Linked DNA regions of Homo sapiens. The protein of the gene in region 1 purifies or fractionates together with the protein of each later gene. This does not show direct contact. Each region holds a gene or a part of one and is shown on either strand. Other genes may lie near its edges. The genes, in order: SMPD3, SOAT1 and PPP3CA.

The links.
Region 2: the proteins of SMPD3 (region 1) and SOAT1 purify together in Homo sapiens (affinity purification with mass spectrometry; one large-scale study listed by BioGRID and IntAct). This does not show direct contact.
Region 3: the proteins of SMPD3 (region 1) and PPP3CA purify together in Homo sapiens (affinity purification with mass spectrometry; 2 studies listed by BioGRID and IntAct, with this or other methods). This does not show direct contact.

The regions. Positions count from the first base shown.
Region 1 is NC_000016.10:68,441,883-68,445,537, forward strand, and holds part of SMPD3 (sphingomyelin phosphodiesterase 3), read right to left. Parts: intron 1-3,655. UniProt on the Homo sapiens protein: Catalyzes the hydrolysis of sphingomyelin to form ceramide and phosphocholine. Ceramide mediates numerous cellular functions, such as apoptosis and growth arrest, and is capable of regulating these 2 cellular events independently.
Region 2 is NC_000001.11:179,342,255-179,345,909, reverse strand, and holds part of SOAT1 (sterol O-acyltransferase 1), read right to left. Parts: intron 3,049-3,655; coding exon 2,967-3,048; intron 2,321-2,966; coding exon 2,275-2,320; intron 964-2,274; coding exon 834-963; intron 1-833.
Region 3 is NC_000004.12:101,092,443-101,096,097, forward strand, and holds part of PPP3CA (protein phosphatase 3 catalytic subunit alpha), read right to left. Parts: intron 1,474-3,655; coding exon 1,334-1,473; intron 1-1,333. UniProt on the Homo sapiens protein: Calcium-dependent, calmodulin-stimulated protein phosphatase which plays an essential role in the transduction of intracellular Ca(2+)-mediated signals. Many of the substrates contain a PxIxIT motif and/or a LxVP motif.

The DNA.
Region 1 (3,655 bases):
AGCCTCCCAAGTAGTTGGGACTACAGGCATTCACCACCATGCCTAGCTAATGTTTTTATTTTTTATAGAGACGGGGTCTCACTATGTTACCCAGGCTAGTCTTGAACTCTTGGCCTCAAGCAAGCCTCCTGCCTCAGCCTCCCAAAGTGTTGGGATTATAGGCATGAGCAACCGTGCCTGGGCTATTTCAACTTAAAATTTGGGTTTTGCATTGGTATTGGATCAAAGAAGCCTATGTTAACGGAAATGTATCCTTTGGGTAATTAAATGAACAGAGCAACAGTTTAGGACAGTGGAAAGAACATGCTTTAGGCATTAAAAAATCTGGGTTCTAAGCCCCATCTTAGAACCACTAACCAGGGCTGTGGCCAGAGCAGCCCTCAACTTCCCTCGCTGTCTTTCCTCATGTTAAAAAGACATGATGGTTTATGATTATTAATATCCTTTCCATTTCTAAAGCTCTTTCTGCTTACAGCACACATTATTTCAGGGTTTCTGTGTCTGTTTCCTTGTTCCGTTCAAGATTTCTATAAGAAAGGACTTATCCCACATTGTGGTTGTGTTCCCCGTGCCCAGCGCTGTGGCTGACACATTTTTGTAGGCACAAGAAATGTCTGTTGAATGAATGGAAATCCAGTCCTCCTTTGAGGGACTCCTGGGCCTCCCAGTTCTTGCCAGAATGATCACAACAGCCTTAGCAATTAATTGCACTTTCTCATATTGGCCTAAAATCTTAACAATCTAAGCTTTCTAAAGGGTTATAGCCAGGATTAGAAACCATTTCCTGATCCTGTGTGCAAAGGAGGTGGTACTCAGCCCTAGGTGTGGCTGCCTAGAGACCCCCACAAATGGCCTCCTTCTTATTACACGCTGTTCTGATGCTGAGGAGAGTTAATTAATGACTCTAAATAAGAAAACAATCAAATCTGTCTGCAGTCATATGAGTCAGAGCAGACCCAGATGGGGTGCCGGGTCCTTGGCTTCCAAGCGCCCTCGGGAAAAGCAGTAGCAGCCTTTGCTCCTTTCATCAGAGCTCTGCGAAGCCCCAGCTTGGAAGGGGAAGGAATCACTCAAAATGGAATGGAGACTCAGCTTGATATGAAGAATTTTTCTTAAAAGTCTAACCCCTTATCTGAGTGTTGTACAGACTGAGGCCCAGGGAGAGGAGAAAAAACATAAGTTCATTCCTTTCTACCCTCTTTAGACATCCAAATCGAATGGGGAGTTCTCAGAAACCGGCCCCTGTGTGTGTTGCAAGATTGGAGCAGTTGGAACTGCCACTTTAGGAGGACAAGACTTGTGGTCTGAAATTCACCAAACCCCAAACCTGCCCACCTTCTGGAGTCTTGCAGCCACATATGGAGGTAGAGCTTTGGTTGGGTGGCATAAGGACAGGAATGTGATGCTTTCCTGAGATTGGCTGAGGCCCACACAGTGAAAATTTTATTTAGGTGTTAGAGGCTTTGCTATGAAAATCTGAGAGTGCAAATAGGTGGAAGGAATCTCTTAACAATATCTGAGTGTCTTCAGCTTTGGAATAGGCTGCTAGGAAATAAAGATAAGCTCTATTTCTTTGGCTGTATGTGTACTCTTTGTCAAATAACAGCTTCCTCATGTTTTTTTTCCTTCCTTTCTTAAAAACGAAAAACAATGACAACACTTTGTTGCCATCTACGCTTGGCTTCCTGTGAAAATTTTCCACAGTGGAAAGAAACCCCTGGGCTACTGGTCATGAAGGTCATTATACTACCCTTTCCCCATTCTTTGGTAACCAAGTTCAGTTAACAAAGCTGGATAAGATATAAAGTAGGTGGCACTATCCTTGCTGAACTTGGAAAGACTGATTTGTGTCTAAATCCTAGTGGGTCCGCAATCCTATTCCTCTGGCATTTGATTATAAACTTACATAGAATAATCCAATAGTTCAGTTTTATTTCTGTAATAGCAATAGGGAAAAAACAGTGGTAAGGAGGAACTTCCAGAGTTTGAGATCCAGGATGGAACCTAAATTCTTCCCCTTCTGTGTAACCTTGGGAAAGCCCTCAAAGCTTGGTTTCCTCACCTTGAAAGTGGGAATTATGCCACCACCTACCTCACAGGACTGTGAGGATTAAATACATTCTTACATGTGAAGAGCCTGAGTCAGAAAATGTTTCCTCTTATTAGCTCATAATTCTTTAAACAGGGATTGCTGATGAGTTTGTTCGAAGTAATGCAGTAATATCCACCACAGCTCTGTTTCCTCCTATTCCATTCTGTAATCAGCTTTGGGGAAATCCTCTTGGAGGCCATGGCCCTCAGCTCTTGCTTCTGGTCCACACCCAGAAGTCCTCCCTTCCCACCAGGTGGGTGAGGCCAGCACTCCAGAACCTTGGACAGCTCTCCTCCACAGTGATCCAGCTGGCTGCCCCAGGGAGCAGGAGGGTCTTGGGAAATTTTCCGAGAAAAGCTGCATTAGTGCAGTGATTTAGGAATACCAGGGCTGCAGTCTCATTTCCAGCATGCATGCTGCCACTTGCATGCGTGTTCAGATTCTTCAACATGACCAGCCCTTCTGGAAATTTCTAAGGAGCCTCTCAGAACTGCTCACAAGATTTACCAAATCTTAGGGCCTTTTCCTTCTTTTCTATGAACTCCAAGAATTTTTTTTGAGCCCAAAAAGAACAGAAACACCACCCACATCTTCCTGAATCTGCTGATATTTAATTTGTTTGGCTTCAGTACAAGGATTAAACATTCTTGATTAACTTCAAGTGAAAGTAATAATGTATGAGCATGAGGAAATGTTTTACAAGACAAAGATACAGGTATAAATTAAAAGAAACATAAAATAACGTTATTGCCTGTAGGTGATGTTAAGCACCATTCTAATCAGGATAAGCAGGTGGTTCAATTTATGAGGCAATTTAGCTTTTCACTCTCCAATGCAGAATACAACACACCATATGCAGTCACCTTCCAAACAGGCAAGGAAGAGATTAAGTCCTATTTTTACTTTATGATACTGAGTCACATAGTTCAATGCAAATCACATGGATGCCAAAGTAAGAACAATACCAGGTATTAAAATACCTTCTTTCCTTTGCAGAGCTGCAGAGCTCTTAGGATTTTGTGACTGCAAGAAATTCCTTCAGAGTAACTCCAGGAGAAGAGACACATGTCACCAGATGGGTATTTAGGACTGAGCATGTCTTATCTCTCTCCCCCACTTCTGTCATTAGGCCTGGAAAGCCGTATTTGCAGCTTTTTGCATTTGGTAATAGCCTCCAGAAGCCTTCATTTTCTGGGCTACATTGTTTTTGAGGAAAAGAGGGCTTGCCTTTGAAAAATGTTATTGACTAATTTAATAATGACAGAAAGAAGAGGATAAATGTGGAACAGGGAAAGAGGAGAAAAGAGTAGTAGAGGTAGAGGTAGAGACAGGAGATGCCTAAATCTCTTTGGCCTTGATAAGTGTTTTCCATGCATTGTCCTTATAAATGGGTTTGATGCCCACCTTCCACTGGTCAGAAACTTGAACAAAGACCTTCAAGCCCTCTTTAAACATTTCCATAGAGGTGAAGACAGCAGCAATTCCATGGCTTGAACTAGCTTGAAAGAACTTCAGACAAGAACATCAACTCAACACTCTGAAGGTAGGAGGGAGCCCCCCAAT
Region 2 (3,655 bases), on another chromosome or scaffold:
TATTTAAGAAATCAAGGTATGGTCGGAAAGACAGGAGGAAAATAAGAAATAGTGGCAAAAGGCCAAGCATGGTGGCTCAAGCCTGTAACCCCAGCACTTTGAGAGGCTGAGACAGGAGGATAACTTGAGCCCAGGAGTTTGAGAATGGCCTGGGCAACATAGGGAGACCCCGTCTCTCCAAAAAATAAAAACTTAGCCAGGCATGGTGGCATGCACCTGTAGTCCCAGCTACTGAGGCGAGAGGATCACTCGAGCCCCAGAGGTCGAGGCTAGTAAGCCATGATGACACCACTGCATTCAGACTGGGTGACAAAGAGAGACCCGATTTCAAAAAAAAAAAAGGCAAGAAAACAGTGACAAGAGAGATTTAAAAATGTGGTCAGCAGCACCCAATGCTTCATGGAGGTCAACTTGGATAAGGGGTAAAGTACATCTTAATCCATCCACTGGATTAGAATATGGATTACTAGTAATTTCTACAAGTAATTTCTACAAGTTACTAGTAATTTCAACAAGGGGCATTTAAGTGGCTTGGTGGAATCAGGAGCAAGATTACAATGAACTTAATAGCGAACAGGAAGACACAGCATGAATGTGGACTGTCCACTGTCAGAGAAAGGCACAACTTGAGTGAAAGCCATAAGATGAAAGACTGACCTGAGACTGGATGAAGGATACTTCATTTATAAAGTAGATGCAAAAGAGGTCAAGATGGGCATAGATGTATAGAAGTTTAGATGAAAAAGTAGGCAAAGCAAAGGTGCTCATAGGCAATAGCTTTCTATTTACCTCGTGAATTTATGCATGACCAAATTAACAAGTACCCATGTTACCTGGCAAGATGGAGTTAAATACACATAGGACCAGAACACGAGCGCTGAAGGGCTCCTGTTTGATATTCCGAAACAAGGGGGCACAAAGCCTTTCAAAGATGTAGTACACATAGAAAAAGCAACCAAAGACCTGGAACATAACAGAGACAGAATTATAATAACGATGGCTTAATAAGATGGAAGGCGATTTTTTTCTCTCCAAAAGAAAGTACAGATGTGACCCTTACAGTAATGTTCGCATATGTATTCCATTTAACACTAGTATAGAAGACTGCTATAATCCTTCAGGGAGATTACTCAAGCCTAGTTTCTACCATCACTTTTCCTAACCCTTTACCAAATGATATTTTTAGAAGAGCTTACTCTTGGAACCTGTTTTCCTGCTGCTTAAAACCCGTAACATGGCCGGGCACAGTGGCTCACGCTTGTAATCCCAGCACTTTGGGAGGCTGAGGCGGGTGGATGACTTGAGGTCAGAGTTCGAGACCAGCCTGGCCAACATGGTGAAACCCCATCTGTACTAAAAATACAAAAATTAGCCAGGCGCAGTGGTGGGCACCTGTAATCCCAGCTACTCAGGAGGCTGATGCAGGAGAATCGTTTGAACACAGGAGGTAGAGGTTGCAGTGAGCCAAGACTGCATCACTGCACTCCAGCATCGGTAACAGAGCAGGACTCCTTCTCAAAAAAAAAAAAAAAAAAAAAAAAAAAAAAAAAAAAAAACCCCTTAATGAAAGAACTTACTTCATAAATGGGCATTTGATTGAGACACTAATTTAAAATGGGATCTTCCAGGATTAATGATTCTGATGGAGGTGGGAGGAGGAATGGGTAAGAGTCAGACTATACCCACATACATATATACCTCCCCCAAAAACAGGAAGGAAGGGGGAAATTAATGCTTACTGAAATAACCAATTAGAATTACTTTATAAATAATACATTCTTTTTTTTTTTAGATGGAGTCTTGCTCTGTCGCCCAGGCTGGAGTGCAGAGGAGTGATCTCAGCTCACTGTAACCTCCATATCCCAGGTTCAAGCAATTCTCCTGCCTCAGCCTCCTGAGTAGCTGAGATTACAGGTACGTGCCTCCACGCCAGGCTAATTTTTGTATTTTTAGTAGAGATGGGGTTTCACCATGTTGGCCAGGCTGGTCTTGAACTCCTGACCTCGCGATCTGCCCACCTAGGCCTCCCAAAGTGCTGGGATTACAGGCGCAAGCCACTGCGCCCAGCCTAATATATTCTTTTATTAAAGAAAATTACTTTTGATGTTGGCAAAACAAACACCATTTACCGTACTGGAAATAGTTTAAAAGACTGCATAATGTCAACAGAAAGCATTCTTAGCTCCCAATTAGATTTAACTAGATTATATTATTATCATAAATATGAATCCCCATCCCCTAATCAACATACCTTAGGCAGTTACAAAAACTTACCTGTGCAAACTTCATAGCGACATAACCCCATCTTACAGTGGGATTCCTGAAAAAGAAAGAAACAAAAATAAGGTTTCTAAATAAAGTAATTGAACTTGAATAAAGACCCTCACAATTAATGTTTTTTGGTCAGGCGCGGTGGCTCACACCTGTAATCCAAGCACTTTGGAAGGCAGTGACCAGGAGTTCGAGACCAGCCTGGCCAATATGGTGAAACCCCGTCTCTAATAAAAATACAAAAAAACCAACCGGGCGTGGTGGCACACACCTGTAATGCCAGCTACTTGGGATGCTGAGGCAGGAGAATCACTTGAACCCAGGAGGCAGAGGTTGCAGGGAGCCGACATAGCACCACTGCACTCCTGGGTGACAGAGCAAGACTCCCATCTCAGAAAAAACTAAAATTAATTAATTAATAAAAAATAAATTAAAAATAATAAAAATAAATAAAAATTAATTAATTCAGAACATCATTTATGACCATATGAAATACTTTATAATTCTGTCAAGAATTACTATAATCAAATTAGACTTCCCTACTCACCATTTGAGGCTTCTCAGGTCAGACAGAAAATGAAAACTCATTCTATATTTTCTATGTCCCTACATGAACTGGCCCCTGTTTACCTATCCCACCTCACTCATGCCACACTTTTGGTGTTTACCACATTTCTGGTTCACAGTACCATTACCTGGGATAGCTGTCACGGTAGATAAGGGTAGGAGCAAATAAGAAGTACAAATACTGGTTGACTGTAGGTATTGGAACAGTGCCTAGAAAAGGAAAACTATAGTTAGAGCAAAGGCTCTTTGATTTTTCACAGCAAAAATACAGGGGGGAATATAAGGAAGCACAGAACAGGGAAGAATAAAATGACTTATCAGCTCATGTTCTTTTTTCCTGATCTCCGGAATGACTTCTTATTCTTGCACGAATTGAATATTACCAATCTCTTTAAACCAAGTTATTCCTGTGACTGAGATAACTTCTAGAGTGTGAAGCAACAATTTGCAAAGAATAGGCAGGCACAGGTGTAATGAGGCTATTAACATTCCATAAAAATAATGCAAAGTTGCAAAAGATAATCAATTTTTTAAAATTGTAGGTTCAAGGGCAAAGCCGGAATAGTCAGGAAACAATGAAGTGGTCCTCAAAATCAATATGGATAATATATATTTGAAATAAAACACAATCTCTACATTATATAATGTGACATCCCAGAAAACAACAAAGGGTGAAATATCCAGCCAATAATCCTTTAAACTAATGAAATTACACAAAGAAAAGAAAAGAAAAAGAGAGAGAGAGAGAAAGAGAAAGAGAAAAAGAGAGAGGGAGGGAGGGAAGGAAAGAAGGAAAGAAGGGAAGGGAAGGGAAGGG
Region 3 (3,655 bases), on another chromosome or scaffold:
ATACTGGAGTTTTTTTTAAGTTCTGGAGTACATGTGCAGAATGTGCAGGTTTGTTACATAGGTATACATGTGCCCTGGCGGTTTGTTGCACCCATCAACCCGTCATCTACATTAGATATTTATACTAATAATATCCTTCCCCTAGCCCCCCACCCCCTGACAGGCCCTGGTGTGTGATGTTCCCCTTCCCTGTGCCCATATGTTCTCTTTGTTCAACTCCCACTTATGAGTGAGAACATGAGGTGTTTGGTTTTCTGTTCTTGTGATACTTTGTTGCATTGGGGCAAAAATAATAGTTCTTATGGATTCCAGCTTCATCCATGTCCCTGCAAAGAACATGAACACATCCTTTTTTATGGCTGCATAGTATTCCATGGTGTATATGTACCACATTTTCTTTCTCCAGTCTATCATTGATGAGCATTTGGGTTGGTTCCAAGTCTTTGCTATTGTAAATAGTGCTGCAATAAACATGCATATACATGTGTCTTTATAGTAGAATGATATATAATCCTTTGGGTATATACCCAGTAATGGGATTGCTGGGTCAAATGGTATTTCTGGTTCTAGATCCTTGAGCAATCGCCACACTGTCTTCCACAATGGTTGAACTAATTTACACTCCCACCAACAGCGTAAAAGCGTTCCTATTTCTCCACATCCTCTCCAGCATCCATTTCCTGACTTTTTAATGATCGCCATTCTAACTGGCATGAGATGGTATCTTATTGTGGTTTTGATTTGCATTTCTCTAATGACCAGTGATGATGAGCATTTTTTCATTGTTTTTTGGCCACATAAATGTCTTCTTTTGAGAAAGAAACTACCACCCTGATTAGTCAGTAACCATCAACATCGAGGCAAGATCCTCCACCAGCAAAAAGATTATGACTAGCTGAAGGCTCAGATGATCATGAGCATTGTTTAGCAATGAAGTATTTTCTGATTAAGGTATGTACATTTGTTTTTTTTTTTTTAGATACAATGCTATTGTACACTTAATAGACTACAGTATAGTGTAAACATAACTTCTATATGCACTGGGAAACCAAAAAAATAATGACTTGCTTTATTGCAATATTTGCTTTATTGTGGTGGTCTAGAATCAAACCCTTAACATCCCCAAGGTACACCTGTATATGTATACATATCTATTTCACATTTATTTACTCACTTATTCATTTATTTATATTTTCATTTTATAAATGCTAGTGAGCCTTTCATTTATATTAAAGAAGTAATACAAACATTATAAATAAATCAAACACATGGACTGATAAATCCTAGCATTATGATGCAAACGTGTTCCAGAGAGCAAGTTCTCTATTCTTACCTGTAGAAGTATGAACACCCCCTGACTGTGTTGTGAGTGAAATGTTCCTGAGTCTTCTCATTTCCAAAATCTTCCAGGGGGTCTGACCACAGGATATCACACATAGGTCCATATGCAGGTGGTTCTTTGAATCGGTCTAACTAAGAAAAATAGAAGACAGAGAGCAAAATACTAATCTTTGGAAACTTAGAATTCTGACAATACAAGAAACAAGCACTGTGCAGAACCCATCCTCTTCTCCCCAGCTACAGCTCAGGGTGAAATGTCCTCTACCTCTCTCTCTCTTCCTGTCCTTCTTCCTACTCGTTTTCCTATCCTTCATCTCTCTCCAATTTTCTTTCCAGCTTCCTTCTGATGAGATCATTTAGTATCTATCTTCATCTAACCCTTTACCTTCCTCTTGCCTCTATTATCTCTAGATTTCGCAGTTTCTCATTTCTCCTATTCTACATTTTATCCTTCTCTCCTTACTTACTTTATCTATCCAAATGTTTTTTTCATGACCAGTTATTATGACTCTACCCCTGTTTCATTTATTGAGAATTACTTTCTTTGGGAAAATTCCTATTACTGCCTCTATTAAACTGTGATTTAGAAGTTTGGATGGAAAACAACTCCTAGTTTTCATGCTTATGTTATTTTTTTATATTTAAGAACATGATTTTGAGAAAAGATGGCTTTTACTTTAAAAGTAGCCACTTGCTATATGATATTTTGGATACTATTTCATTATGGGCTATCTAGGTTTCTAATGATAAACTACAAGCCTCCTGTAGTTGATCTTAGTGGGTACAAATATGAGTAATGATAAGCAGTAAAATAAACTCAACTTTAGCGGGTCATTCTTCAGTTCACAGTTCTAAGCTTTATAATTTTACCTGAAGCCTTCATATGAAATCAATTTTCCAGCTATAAATGTTTAGTGAAGTCACATTTCAATTTTAAAAGGTGCATTTAGAAGGCATATTAGAAATATCATCACTGGAAATAACATATCACGATCAATTTTAAACACTTTAGTTTATCCTGATTTAACTGCAATTAAAGGATCTTTGGTGAATCAGCAGATATTATAAAGGCTCTTGAATAAAAGCATGCAATAGCTTTGAAAATCTATTAAGAATTGATATTCTTCATATTGATATTTTTAAAAATCCAATGAAGACAAGTGAACATATTTTGCTTACAACTAATCAAATTGTCTATTTTTTTTTTCTGGGACATACAAGATGTAAGTAATGGTTTTGTTGCACACTACTTTTTATTAGTATCTATAGAGAATGAGGCAATATTTTATGTTTTCAATACCCAATGAAAAACTTCAATAAAACAAGACTACATTTCAACCATTATGTTAGCCACAAAATATTCATTGCAAACTTAAACTTGTTTAAGAGATTTAAATAATTTATGCTCTTGGAACAATACATTCAAGAAAAATAATACTTGTCCCTAAAAATACAGAACTTCTTTCTGAAAAACAATAACTTATTAAGGGTAGGACAGTAGAGGAGGGGAAAGTTTCTGATTAATATGAATCCCCAACTAAAGGTCTGCAAAGCTACCAGAATATAACATTTATTCTGGAAAAAGTATACAGTGCATTCTAAAAGTTAATATAATTGACAGTAAAAATAAACAAATACAAAAAAACTTGATATATGGCAAGATAAAAACTTAAAAATCATTTTCTGGCCATGTGCAGAGCTTAATGATATGTATGAAAATTGAATATAATATCTAAAATATCCTGGGAAGTAAGTCCTAGGGATATTAGGTGATATTTTAAAAAATCTACTTAATTTACGATGTGAAGTTTATTTACTTAAAAAAAATCCATCAGATTACAGAATGAGCTAGTTATATTCATGCAGAAAGAAACATTTCTGTTTTTGAGACGGAGTCTCCCTGTGTCACTCAGGCTGGAGTGCAGTGGCACGATCTCGGCTCACAGCAACCTCCACCTCCCAGGTTCAAGAAATTCTCCTGCCTCAGACTCCTGAGTAGCTGGGATTACAGGCGCGCGCCACCATGCCTGGCTAATTTTTGTATTTTCAGTAGAGATGGGGTTTCAACATGTTGGTCAAGCCGGTCTCGAACTCCTGACCTCATGATCCACTTGCCTCGGCCTCCCAAAGTGCTGGGATTACAGGCGTGAGGCACCATGCTTGGCCCAGAAAGAAACAATTTTATACTGAACCAGCATCACATCTCTACTGTACTTTAAATATAGAGCAAAGACCAATGCTCTATGCTCTATAGAAGTGTGAAATAGTGTCTTGCAAAAATGGACACAAAGACACAGAGCAGGAAACAAGGTTT